Homo sapiens: one gene and its partner. The protein of the gene in region 1 interacts with the protein of each later gene in a biochemical or structural test. Each region holds a gene or a part of one and is shown on either strand. Other genes may lie near its edges.

Region 1 (4,949 bases):
TTGGCCAAGCGGGGCCTCAGCTGCAGTTGGCTTCAGCACTGTGGGCAGGTTCTGTAGGTGGCCACAAGTCAGAGGCCCTGCTGGCTGAGGACACACACAGGGTCACCTCATTATTCCATGGAACCTTGGCTCTTACTGATATTGAGCATCCTTCTCTCTGGAACCGTGAGGGACAGGGCTGGGCCCACAGCGGCCCTGGTGGGTACAAAGTGGAAGTGGGTTCTTAACCTCGTCTGTGTCTAGACTCCTCAGGATGTTCTGAAATGCATAAAATAAAATCGACAGGACTGCCGTAGAAACCAGTTATGCCGAAATGCAGTTCTGGGTAGGCAAATCTCAGGGGAGGACCCTTGAGACAGGATGTCACTCAGCGTATCTCCTGAGAGCCTGAGAGGCCAGGCCAGCAGGGAGGGGCTCTTGTTCCTGTCTTCTGCCAGTGTGTCCTGTTAATCCCCACAGCCCCCGGGGGAGTGCAGGAAACACATCCCTTTTTAACGGACTAGATTTCTATTAATTTATTTAAGGCAATTAACATATTAGTTCTCAGGCCAAAGGATTTGTAAAACATTACACCAAAAGGAGAAAAACAAGCGGTCATGAAACAGCCACGCAAGCGCAGCTCAGCCCTTGTTGCCTGGGCGTACAACTCTTCCCCAGGAAGCCTGGGAAGAGGCAGGTCCTGGGAGCAAGATCGTCCATCATGGAGTCACCAGGCCACCTGGAGCCATGCCGGGGGTGGCATGGACACGACAGTGAGGTCTGCACTGGCTACAGCAGATCTGAGGCACGGAGGGAGCTGCACAGCCATGGGCAGGGCTGAGCACAGCACCCTTGAAATAAGTTAAATAACAAAGCCCTAAAATCACTAGTAACAGCATAACTGCCACCTCCCCCAGAGGCCGGCAGCCGCCAAAATGTAGTGCTTGGAGTTAAAGGGGTGACCCCACTCTTAACTACCCACAAGGAGGACTACAAAGAGTTGTCAGTTATTGCTTTAAGGAACAAAGGTCTCTAGGTAGGATTTATCTTCTGCTAAGGCATTAAGGTAAACTGAGTCCCAGTGAACTTTCAAGTCTTTTTAAGGGCTCTAAGCAGGACTGTCAGCTCTGAGGCTCCCCCTCCATGCTCTTCAAAGCCTGGGTGGGTGTCAGGGTGTCTGGCAGAGTGGGAGTGGAGGCTGGCCAGCTGGCTGGGCCACCCAACCCGAGGGAGGGGGCAGTGTTCTTCCCAGTCGCAGTCTCCAGTGATGAGCATCCCCTGTTGGGGCCTTCGGTGGCTCTCCTCAGCGGCTAATGCAGTTCTGGACATCCACAAAGCCTAGGCGTTGCCTGCGTTTCCGCTGCTCCGTCATCTAGGGTTAAGCAGATGCCAACAGGCCTGGTCAGGCCGCCTGGCACCTTCCCTCCATGGGTGCTGTGGAAGAGCTTGGCACCCGTCTTCCCCTGTGGGCCCAGCTGCTATTCGGCACTGGCGGCGGGCCAGGGCCCCTCGGGGTGCTTTAAGGATGTCGATGTCAGCACCAAACCCTTGTTCTCAATTAGCGTGTCACAAACCCTGGATTTGATGCAGCTGGGAAACCAGCCCACTAACAGAGGCTGCCTCATCTTCATGCAGGCACTGCCAGATGCAGAAGAGGATGTCTAGGCAAGAGGGCCTTAAACTCCCCCATCTCCAGTGATGGGGATCCCCTCAAAGGACCTACCTGGCAGCTGTCAGAGGAAGGGGATGAGAGACAGAGGGCCCCACCACCCTGTACTAAAGTTTCCACTTGGCCTTGTCTTTAGCGGCCCAAGGCAGGGGTTGTCAACCCCAGTCTGACTTGCCATGCAGGGGAGAGTGGGTTTGGCACCTGCCTTCTCATCCAGGCCCAGGGCCAGAGGCCAGTGGGGAAGAGGGTGGGTCAGGAAGGATGAAGGCAGGCAGGGACTGCCCAGGGATAGAACCCAGGGTGGGCCTGGGATCAGGCGGGGTGCACACCTGCTCCTTGAGCTCGTTGAGCTGGGCAGTGAGGTGGGACACCAGCTTCATGGTGGAGTTGAGCTTGTCCTGGAGAATCCGAATCTCATTCTGCTCCCCCTCGCCCTCATTGCTGACAAGGGACATGGCCCGCATCCGGGGGAACCAGTCCAGGTTCTTGTTCTGAAAAACATCACCAGTGGGTTAAGCAGGCGTGGGCCCGGCCTAGAAAGGCCTCATTTAGAAAAACAGTAATGTGGGGGGAGGCTTCTGCCACACCCTTAACAAAACTACTCGTCAGGGATGTGTCATGGGAAAATCTGAATTGACCTGGTCCTCCCCGGGGCCAGAGTGAGCTGGCAGTCAACCCTCTTGTCAACCCTCTGCCACCGAGACAGGCTGACTTCCGTTAGGCAGCGTCGGCAGCTGAGTTTGAGTCCTTTGCTGGTATCAGCACCATCTGTTTACTCTCATAACACCCCCTGAGAGGTGGAGGAAGGCCTCTGCACCCAGACAGACCCTGGATCTCCTTCCTTCCTTCCTCCCGCCCGCCTGCCTGACAAGCACGCCCCACGCCCCGGGAAGACGCGAGTCAGACAGATGGCAAATTGAGGGATCAGGAGGCTCCGCTGAGGAGAGCTGGCATCTGACACGTGTCTGGGAGGCAAAGCCACGTTTCCCAGGACAGAGGAGTCGGGGGGGGAGGGGGCACCAAGCAATTCTCAGCTTCCTTGTAGTAAGCTGTGAATTCTCAGACCAACAGATAAACCTGTACACAAAGATCAGTTTGAAATACAGACTAAACGATAAATAATTCCTTCTTTATGATTCATTGCCTTCACTCCATTATTACAGAAATTGGACAGATGACATTTGATTTCTGTAAGTGATTTTTAAAGTTTTTCCAGGCTCCCCTTCAGCCCAGGATCATCTAATTCAGACTTTTTAGGAAGCAGCCTGCCTTCCCACCGAGCTAGAAAACACTCCCTGAGAGCGGCCCACAGATCACTGGCCACGGGCAGGGTCTCCCCAACTCCACCCCTCCTCAGCATCACTGCACGACAGGCCCAGGGATACCACACGTGTTCTTCGGGGCGCATGGGTTTGCTGTGGGATTTTTCCTGACACCCAGAAGTGTGAGGAGGCCCCTCTGCAGCAGCGGCTTCCGTGCAGCCCAGAGCTGCTTCCAGCTGCTGCTCCTCGCCCTGCTGACCTTTCAACAAGTGTCTGCAGCTGTCCGAGCCCCTCTGCCTGGCCTCCTAGGGCCAACAGTCAGATAGGGCCACTCCTCTCCAGGGCCCAGGGTACTCAGAAGCTAAAACCATGAGGCCTCTGGTGCACAGTGATGACTCTAGAATGGCTGGTTTGGGCCCACAGGCCTGGCACAGCCCCTGCTCACACCTTGATCATCTGGGCCACGTAGCTCTCAGGGCCCGTGTAGTCGGTCTTGTTCTTCACGCGGACCAGCACAATGAAGTACAAGTAGTTCCACATGTTGTGCTCCAGCTTGATGTGTTCCTCAAATGACACTGTCTTGTTATCAAACTTGTCCCTCTCCAGACCTGAGGGTGCAGAGGGCGGGAATGAAACCATCAGCCTTCAAGAGCCACTGCAGGGTCACCTGCTGGAGGGGACCCAGCTTCCGGGGGTTGGAGGCATTTGTTCTCGGGATGAGCGCTTCCAACAGCTCGCTCTGGGCTATTTGGGTCACTTCTATTTAAAGCAGCAGCCACTTAGTGGAGATCCTGCCCTGCCGCAGCTGCAGCCCTCCCGCAGCAGCAACCGAGGACTCCAGGAGTAAACGCGAGAATTTCTCGAACTCAGGGGAAGCCCGAATGGCTGAATGAGCGAGGTCCTACAGGCCATACAGGTGACACCTGCCTGAGCCCGAGGTGGCTGGTGAGGGGACTAGCACTTCATTTCAGGGGTAGGAAAAGCACTGGACTGAGACCAGAAGCTCCAGACACTGACTGGGCTCATGTCCTCACCTAGAAACCCCAAGGGTTTACAGGGATGGGCCTGTCCCACTCCTTTCTGACTCCAAGTTCAGGCAGGGTCATGTTCTCCCCAGTTCTGGGATGAGCAAATGCATCAAGTCATCAGCTCCGGGCCAGGGTTCCCCAGGGCAGGAAGGGCCAAACCGCTACTGCCACTGGCATCAGATGACGTTCCAGCCCCGCTGCGGCCTCCACAGAGCAGGAAGCAGCCCTCACCACAGATGAAGCATGTCGTCTTAAGAATCTCCTCCTTCTTCTGCTTCTCACTACGCAGGTCAGCGAAGGTGTCGATGATTACCCCAAAGATGAGGTTCAGCACAATGATGATGACGATGAAGAAGAACAGGAGGTCATAGACCACTCGGGCTGGGAAGAGAGACTCCTGCAGGGGATGAGGCAGGGAGGCTGGGCCCGGTGGTCCCCACATTCACTGGGGCAAGATAGGACTCAGGTTGGGGCCAGGGCTGTGATATTGAGGACCCAGCCCCTAGCAGAAGGAAATGAGGGCCTCTGGCCTGGGGGCCATCAGATGGCAGAGTGGACCCAACCTGGCTCCACAGAGCAAGAATTGCAAGCAGAAGCCCTGAGTTTGGGTTAGGAAAGCGTGGACTCAGGACACGCCGGGGTGGAGGCCTGCAGAAGGAGTCTGGCGGGGAGGTAGGGCTACGAGTCTCGGTGTGTCTCTGCCCCTAACATTGATGAGGGAAAGAGGCAGCTCTGAACACCTCTGCCCACCCTCAGGACGCCTGGCCTCACACATTCCAGAAACCCTCTGTCTGGCCAGGGAGGCGGCCTCTCACTCCCAAGCAACAGGGGAAGGCCTGACATTCGGGAATGTGGCTGCCCAAGCCAAATCATGAGGCCTCCTGATAAAGCTGACTCAGCTCCGCCCTCTGCCCACCTGCTGTGGGCTAGGAAAGCCAGTGGTCACCATCCCTAGCCCTGGGGCAAAGTTTGGTTGCCAAAGTCTTTCCTTATGGAATGGGAGGGTGAGGG
Region 2 (9,208 bases), on another chromosome or scaffold:
TGCTACTTGGTAAATGACCTTTAACAAGTTTTTAAATTTCTCTAAGCCTCAACTTCCCCATCTGTAAAATGGGAATAATAATAGTATCTACTAATAAAGTTGTGAAGATTAAAGGTAAAGCCCTCAGAATAGCGCCTGGTTCATAGCATGCACTCTATAAGTATTAACTATTATTATTAGCTTACTTAGCCATTTTTTCATGTTTAATATATAAAAACTCATAATAATATTTATGAAATTTCAAAGTTATCATGCACAATCCATAGAAAAAGATACCACTAACTAATGTTGGACATCTTCAGTCTAGAGAAACTATTGATTTTAGTTACCAGAAGCCAAGAAGTCAAGATAGCAAAAACAATAAAAAGCTAAATATTAGACCTATTCTTGCTCCAAGAAAGCACTGCGGATTTCTTAAAAGGTATTAAAGACACTCTTAAGCCTGATTAAAACTGAATTTCATGTGAGAAGAAAGGAAAAATATTCCCAAATATGAGAAAAATTTTAGTTCAGGTACAGAAACTAATTTACCAAAGTTTACAAATCTTCTTAGTTGACAAATTTCATAGGCAATATTTTTCCAATATAATGCTCATGTTGTGAAGTATAACTTAAGGGTCCTGATAATTCTATATATACTCATGTGATCAGGTTTGAAATTATTATAAAATGACATTATTCAGGTAATCCACAATAATATTTGGTCAACCTTCTGTTTTAAAATGATTTATCCCAAAACAGAATATAATTTGTAGAATTAACACTGTAGTGAAAAAAAGAATTGGACAGAGTTTTGTTGTTTATTGTGCTTTCAAGAAAATTTCTAGTATACTGTAGAGTTGGCCCTCTGTATCTCTGTGTCCTACATCTGTGGATTAAACCAACCATGGATCAACAATATTTGGAAGAAAAAATTCACAAAGTTCCAAATAAGCAAAACTTGAATATTCTTCACAGCAAGTACTATGTTGAATCCACATGAATGAAATGATGTGTAGGCACTGTATTAGGTGTTATAAGTAATTGAAAGATACTTTAAAGTATATGGGAAGATGTGTGTATGTTATATGCAAATACTTATTTTTGGCAATACTTCATTCTTTACTCTTCTGCTCAGATTCCAATGTTCTTGGGAAATCTTAATTTGTCCCTCAAGGTGAAATGCCTGGGAGAGAAACAGCTTTTCCTCTCACCAATGACCAGGTTTAGTAAATCTCAAATTTAGTAGTGTCACCTTTCCTCCAAATATCAAAGCAATCTCAGGACTGATTACTGTCCTTGCTATCCCTCTATACAATGACAATTTAATTTGCAGTAATGTTAACTATGTATTTGGAATAAAAAGTTTAACTAGAAATGTTCTAAGTCTGCAGTGAAAGATGGACACGCTTTCTTCCCATCATCAAGAGGTGGGGAAGGAGGAAGTCAAAATTTCCTACTCTTCAATTCAACAGGCTTGTGATTGATTTAACTAGTAGATTCTAACAGAGGTGATGCTATGTGACTTCTGAAGGTAGGTCCTAAAAGGCTACGCATCTTCCACCTTGCTCACTGGAACACCTGCTCTTGGAGCCATGAACTACCATGTAAAAAGCCACTCTGAAGCCACCATGCTGTGAGGAAGCCCAGGCTGCACACAGAGGTCACATGTATGTACCCCAGCCAGCCCGCAGAGGCTTCTCAGACCACATCCTCAAAGTCTGCCCATTGTGATGGCCATGCCTCTCCTTGGTTCCTGTTGTGAGTTCTCAGGAGCCCCACCTTCTGTGGACTCACCCATCTGAGCACCCTGTTCCTGAGGCCTCAGCTGCTGCTCAGACACCAGACATGTGAGTGGAGAAGCCCCCAGCTGATTATAGCCCTGTCATTTATCTCCAGATGAGTTCCCAGACACGGAGAAGCAGAGAAAAATCATGATTGCCATGCCCTTTCCTAATTCCTGACCTAAGAATCCAAGAGCATAATAAAATGATTATGAAATTATTATAAAATAACTATGAAGTGTTTTATGCCACTAAGTTTCAGAGTAGTTTGCTATTCAAGATTGATAACCTAAACAAAGCTTACCAACTATTTGAGAAAATATCTTCCCCACTGATCGTATTTAGAAATCTAGTTTTAAAAACTACTTTACATTTTCATTCATCTTTAAAATCGCAAAATATCTTCCTTTCAACTAACAAATATTACTACTACTTCTTGTCTTTTCTTTCATCTTCTTTAGAATGGTACATTTGGTTCCATTTGGACTCCACTCTGTGAGTCCTTCAGGGATATAGCTATCATTAGAAAATTACCTCTTAAGATTTTTTTTCCTAAACAGGATAATTTTAGTTCTTTACGCCTTTCTTTGAGGTTCTTTTTTTAAATCACTTTAATTGATTTTATACCATGTAATCCCCTTATTCTATCATTTTCTAGGACTTCATGTCCCTTTTAGGTTGTGGAACACAGAAGCAAATATATTAACCAATAAACATCCTCCATCAATTCCTCCATCAATTTCCTAATAACTTTGTGAGGCTCAAATTTTTAACCAAGGTAAGAAAAAATTCTGCCCTTAGCACCAAAGGTCCTGTATCTGGCCTTCTATCATTATATATTTCAGGCCCTATTTTTGTAATAATATAAATTTGATAAGCAAGTTTTATTTAAACATCTATGTTAACAATGAAAATAGTCTTAGAAGTAATACCTAATAAATACCATTTATCAACATCCCATACTATCAATTAGATATTATTATTATCTACATATGAATATCACTGTTTAGTTAATTATCTCAAAAATGAAATTTAAAATGCATATTTTCCTGATTCAAGTTCCTGGATCATATGTATATGTATGCATGGGGAGTAGAAATGGGCATATCTCTTAATAGAAAGGGATGATGCCAGAAAAGTCAGATTCAACTTAGTTATCATATCATGTACCTCTCCACTTTTGAGTTTCACAATGAATTATAAATAAGAGGAATCAGGAAATATAGTATCTGATACTTTATTTTTAAATAGAAATCACTATTACTATAGAAGGGGCTATTTATAACCAGATCAATGAAAACCAACCTGTGACAGACAAAACACAAGATGGAAACTTCACTATAAAGTTTGTACCTACTACAAAGGATCTTACCTGTGTAGCAACTATTTAGCAAAAACATTAAATCAACATCCATGTTATAATTATAATCAATATTACTAAAAATAATAAAAACTACCATTTATTGCATACTTGCTTAATGCTAATACTTACTGTGCTAAACCCTTTTAGTATATATTCTTAATTAATTATTAAAACAAAAGCTCAAACAGATTCAATAACTATCCCAAGACACACAATTTTTAGGAAGCAGAACTAGGATCTTAACCCAGATGAGTTACTCCAAAGCCTTTGCCCTGAGCCACTAGACTACTGTAGAGAAAATAATTTAAATATATTACAGAAAGCCTCATACCTCTTTCTGGTTATATTTGATAGCAAGTTTTAGACGACTTAAATTCATTCTTTCTTCTAATAATCCCCGTTTGTCAAGAGGCTCGTCACTAGACGTATGGTTTAGAATAACTTCCAATTCACGAGAATTCCGGGCTTGTGCAAGTAAATCCTTAGCAAACATTTTACATTGCCGGGCTAGTTCCTCATAATCATTCCTATAAAATGCAGCATTCTATTATCAGAAACGTCGTTTCCATCTTCTAATTAAGCTATATTCACTAAAAACGTTTTTACTCAGCAACATTTTAATTCTGACAGTGTTACACAAAATCTGAAGTCATTTTCTGTGGATAATCAAAGGAAACTAGTGATGCACGAATTTTCCACAGCTTTGGGGAAAACCATAACACAATTATGTTCCCTGTGTTCATACTAATAATCTTAGATGAGCACAGTGTTCATTTATATATACTGATGTTATTCCTAAAAATTCTAATAATATTTGTCAACCAGTTCTTCGCTTAACTCATTTTCCCTTATTCTCTGTAAGCTTGGCTAAAACTTCCTTTTATATTACTCACCTTAACAATAGACATAATATCTTAATGCTATCCAATCATTATCATAAAATTTTTAACTAGAGCTTTTTCAATAGTCATCTACAATATGTTTATGTTACTTCTAATATTAAAATAGCATTTTGATTCATATTTAAAGTGCTCATTTGAGTGAAATTCAAATTAGAAAGAAAGATATTAAAATGCGCCTAACAAAAACCTCTCTTTCAGAATCCCTATTCCTTGAATCTTGGGTTTGAACTGCTTATTAAAGGCAGGCCTAAACTAATTTGTGAGAAATGAAGAAGTTTTAGTATATAATTCTTTTAAAAAATATCAATTACGGCTGGGTGCGGTGGCTCAGGCCTGTAATGCCAGCACTTTGGGAGGCCAAGGCGGGTGATCACCTGAGGTCAGGAGTTCAAGACCAGCCTGGCCAACATGGCAAAACCCTGTCTCTACTAAAAAATACAAAAATTAGTCAGGCATGGTGGCAGGTGCCTGTAATCCCAGCTACTCAGGAGGCTGAGGCAGGGAGAATTGCTTGAACCCAGGAGGGGAGGTTGCAGTGAGCCAAAATGGTGCCACTGCCCTCCAGCCTGGGTCTCCAAAAAAAAAAAAAAAAAAAAATCAATTACATTAACTTTATGTCTAAGCTTAATCATAACTTAAGAATGAAGTCAGAAATAAATAATTATGAGTCATAGTCTTGAGGTTGGGCTTCAGAAAATAATGTTTTTATTCAGTTTTTTCCCAAACTGAAAGGAAGGGGAAACAGGAAGATTTCCCACTGGTTAGTCTTTCTATATAATGGGGCTTTCCAGGAACTGGCTATATAAAAATCATAACTTAAGAATAAAAACTTCTTTGCCTTAATTTCTCTCATCATTCTTTATACATTCTATGTAGTCAAAACTCCTGAAAATAAGTAATTGGATTTATTTAACAAATGCGGCACTCCCTGCTTCTTGATTTAGGAATCTAACTGCAGACTGGAATGTTTATCAGAAGTATATATTATTACAAAAATATTCCATCTTTGGATAAACATTTGATGGACTACGAGATTCAAAGGTGAAATTTATACATCTTATTAATCTAATTCATTTCTAATAGATTACTGAAGACAAATAAGTGGCTGTATAGTTTAGATGGAAATATAGAAAACCAGAAGCAAGGAGTCATATATTCTAGTTATAACTTTGCTCCTACTTTTAGTTTTAACTCTATTCCTAATTAGATGCTGCTATTAGTAAAAATCTAGCCTTTATAAATCTCCTCCCCTGTCTATAAAACACTGGATTGAAGTAAATGGGTTTCTATGATCGCTTCCAAATCTAACTTTATTATTTTATGATTATATAATCATAGCAGTTTCTTCAAATCCTGTTTGAAAGGAGTTGAGTAAGTTTTATTTTATATAACTCAGACTCAAATTATGAGGTTACAATAGGAAGTTTTTCATATTTAAACAGAATAATTTAACAGCCTCATGTGCTAATAAAGTTAAAAGTAGCAACAAGTTACATTTGAACCATGTTTTGTGTGTTCATCAAAGTAAAGTACATACTTCATGTCATATCAAGTTTAAACAAAATTTAAATTATCCAAGTTACAAGACAGTAGTTCCAAACTTGAAAATATAAACAGGTCTTTTTTCAGTTTCTGGAACTCAGGTCTATGAAGAACACATTAAGTACTGCTGTTAAAGCTAAAGAAAACTCCAAGTTTCTTACTGCCCTTCCAGGAAGTAGAAATTTGAACTTTCCCAATTTTGTCAAGTCACTGAAAGAGTGTCACACAAGACATGGGGCTCTAATAGCAGCCGTATAGGAAAGAAAAGGTAGGAATAGTTATAGATCCCCAGTAGAAACCTTGCAACAGGGGCTAGTAAAAAATCGTAATCAATTCCTCCTTCTTTAGAGGGCAACAGGGATACTTTTCCATAAAGGAAAATCTCAACGCTTTCTCTCAACTCTACTATTAATAAAAGTAGTTTTCTAAGGATTTTTTTAAAAACAATATTTAAATTAGTAGTTTCATAGGCTGCTATTACAAAGTCTTTTTTTTTTTCAACTTACCCCCCTAAAGGAAAATAATAGGAGTGCTTCTTTGGTATGCCAAGTGCCAAAATTACATTTAATCTTCATTTCAGAAGAGAACTCAGACTGGGTGTTCATCCCTCTTAATTAGTTGTATTTTATTTTTATGTTTACATGTATTACATATATTATTTCTCTTACCAGAAAATCTGAGCAAATAGTGAAAAGGGACTATGTCTGTGTGTGGAATGTCCTTGACATACAGAAAGCATTCCATATGCTTTTGAAAGATCTGAAGGATCATTACTCAAGGATGATTATAGAGTCAGAGAATGAGGAGATATGTGTGAGAGAGAGAGCAACTATGAATAAATTTGCTCCTGCTTTAGGCTATAATCCTACTGTATTTCATACTGCTCTACAATGCCTTTGGTTAGGTTGAAAAGTGGGGAAGAGATTAAAGGTGTTTATAGGGTGGCAGAGGGCAGATGGGGAAGGAATGACTTAAGTAGCACCAGGGTCTGTTCCTTTGAGGGAGAGCAGGGGTCTGTTGCCAAGTAAGTGGCAACAAGGTGTAGTGTTCTTGGATCAAATGTAAATATATACAAATTATAATTTGGGTAATGAAGAAACTGAGGTTGAAGATTTAAAACAAAATACATTATATAATTTGCATTCATTCCCACCTGAATTCCACCTCCACAAGACTTAGTTCTTTTAAATCAGCACTAAGTTCAAATGCTCTCAGAATTGGATCCTCCTCTGTTAACATTATTAGAGCTGGACTGGCCAAACATCGATATATATCAAGACGAAACCTGTGATAAAATTGGATTCCATAATGTAAAATAAACTTATACACATATAATTCGTATTTTAATCTATAATTTTCATAAATGTATACTTAAAATATTATAAAATTAAAAGAAAAACTACAGATATATTTATTACAAGATAACCTCCATAAAAAGACTTAAAACAAATATTTTGAGATATAAATATTGAAAAACCTTGCTATCTATTGCTTTTTAGAAAATTTTTTTACTGTCTCTTTTCATAGATTCAAAATGCCTTTGGTATAATATAAAGATTTTTGTTTAATCCAGTTTAATTAAATTCATATTTCTGGACCAACTTTTTTTTAACTTAAAAGACAGGGTCTCGCTCTGTCACCCAGGCCAGAGTGCAGTGGAGTGATCACAGCTTGCCTTAGTCTCGAACACCTGGGCCAAGGGATCCTCCCACTTCAGCCTTGTGATTACAGGTGCATGCCACTACACCAGGCTAATTTTTAAAATTTTTATAGAGACAGGGTCATGCTATGTGGCCCAGCTAGTCTTAAGCTCCTGGCCTCAAGTTATCCTCCCATCTTGGCCTCCCAAAGTGCTGGGATTACAGGTGTGAGCCACTGTGCCTGGTTTGAACCCAACATAATTTTAAATAAAATATGCTAATAACATAAATTTTTAATATGATGTGGATTTGATGACTAATAAATCTTTTCTTTCTCTCTCAGTAATAAAAATACTTTTTTTTTCTTTTTTTTTTGAGATGGAGTCTCACTCTGTCACCAGACCGGAGTGCAATGGCACGATCTCGGCTCACCGCAACCTCCGACTCCCTGGTTCAAGTGATTCTCCTGCCTCAGCCTCCCAAGTAGCTGGGATTACAGGCATGTGCCACCACGCCTGGCTAATTTTTGTATTTTTAGTAGAGACGGGGTTTCACCATGTTGGCCAGGATCGTCTCGATCTCCTGACCTTGTGATCCAGCCACCTCGGCCTCCCAAAGTGCTGGGATTACAGGCGTGAGCCACCGCGCCCAGACCATAAAAATATTTTAATATGCTCAATATATATAATACATTTTTCATTCATTCAGGTTATGAGTTTGAAAGATGTTTCAAATCTTAAGAGTGAAATCATTTACTTATGCACAGTCTGTAATGTAAAAAAGCACTCCCTTTGCCATCTATAAATTAATATTCAAATTTCCATACCTAAATAGAAAACAAACCAGAAAAATTTGCTATAGTTCATTTATTAATATAATTCTTAATTTACAAATTTAGTAGATATTATATTTTTCTTTTAATATAAATTTAAATACATGCTTATTATAAAACATAAGGTAAGCAATTTGGAAACATGATACTCCCTCATCCATGTCCTCCCATCACCTCCCAACTGCAATCCTCAAAACTCGTCATTTTACAGAGAATTGTGCATGTCCTCCCTGATATTTTCTACTCACACACGAACATAATCAGACATAATAAAGGAACAGCTTGCTTTTTAAAAAGTGTAACATATCATGAATCTCTTTCTGTGTTACCATATACAGATTCATCTCATACAACTGGACGGAGGTCTATAAGCTCTCCATTAATGAACATTTAGGTGGCTTCTAATTTTTTTCTGCTATAAAAAATGCAGCAATGAATATTCTTCAGTTTGCATATCTTTTGTGTACTTTCAATTTCTAGGGAATATGGCATTTGTATTTTAAATTCTGATAGATGTTTCCAAAGCAATAATAACAAGGAGAGCTCATTTTCTCCATCAGCTTCATTAATACTGGGTATTACTATTTCAATCTAACAGAAAATAGGATTTTATAGGTGGTTTAAAATGAATTTCTTTAGATGCCTGAGCATCTTTTCATGTTTAATATTCATTTATACTTCTTCCTCTGTAACTTGCCTGTTCATATTCTTTGGCCCATTTTTTGTAATGATTATTTATCCTGCTTTTAGTCAATTTGTAAGATTTCTACATATCAAAGAAATTAGCCTACTGTCCAATCAAAAGTGATTCAAATACTTTTTTTTTTTGAGACACTCTCATTCAGTTAACCAGGCTGGAGTGCAGCAGCGCAACTTTTGCTCACTGCAGCCTCCGCCTCCTGGGTTCAAGCAATGCTCCTGCCTCAGCCTCCTAAGTAGCTGGGATTACAGGTGCGTGCCACCACACCTGGCTAATTTTTGTATTTTTAGTAAAGACGGGGTTTTGCCATATTGCCCAGGCTGGTCTTGAACTCCTAGGCTCAAGTGATCCACCCACCTCGGCCTCCCAAAGTGCTGGGATTACAGGCGACTTAAATACTTTTAATCCAGTTTGTTGTTTATCTTTCTACTTTGTTGTAATGAATTTTTCTATACGGAAATTCCAA

Evidence for each region. The genes of interacting proteins can lie anywhere in the genome.
Region 2: the proteins of ITPR3 (region 1) and TRPC1 form a complex in vitro, tested with the Homo sapiens proteins (one study listed by BioGRID).

What each region holds. Positions count from the first base shown.
Region 1 is NC_000006.12:33,692,114-33,697,062, reverse strand, and holds the end of ITPR3 (inositol 1,4,5-trisphosphate-gated calcium channel ITPR3), read right to left. Parts: intron 4,336-4,949; coding exon 4,170-4,335; intron 3,519-4,169; coding exon 3,358-3,518; intron 2,140-3,357; coding exon 1,978-2,139; intron 1,352-1,977; coding exon 1,283-1,351; 3' UTR 501-1,282; downstream 1-500.
Region 2 is NC_000003.12:142,775,279-142,784,486, reverse strand, and holds part of TRPC1 (short transient receptor potential channel 1), read right to left. Parts: intron 6,856-9,208; coding exon 6,724-6,855; intron 3,654-6,723; coding exon 3,458-3,653; intron 1-3,457. UniProt on the Homo sapiens protein: Forms a receptor-activated non-selective calcium permeant cation channel. Forms a heteromeric ion channel with TRPC4 or TRPC5 that has reduced calcium permeability compared to the homomeric TRPC4 or TRPC5 channel.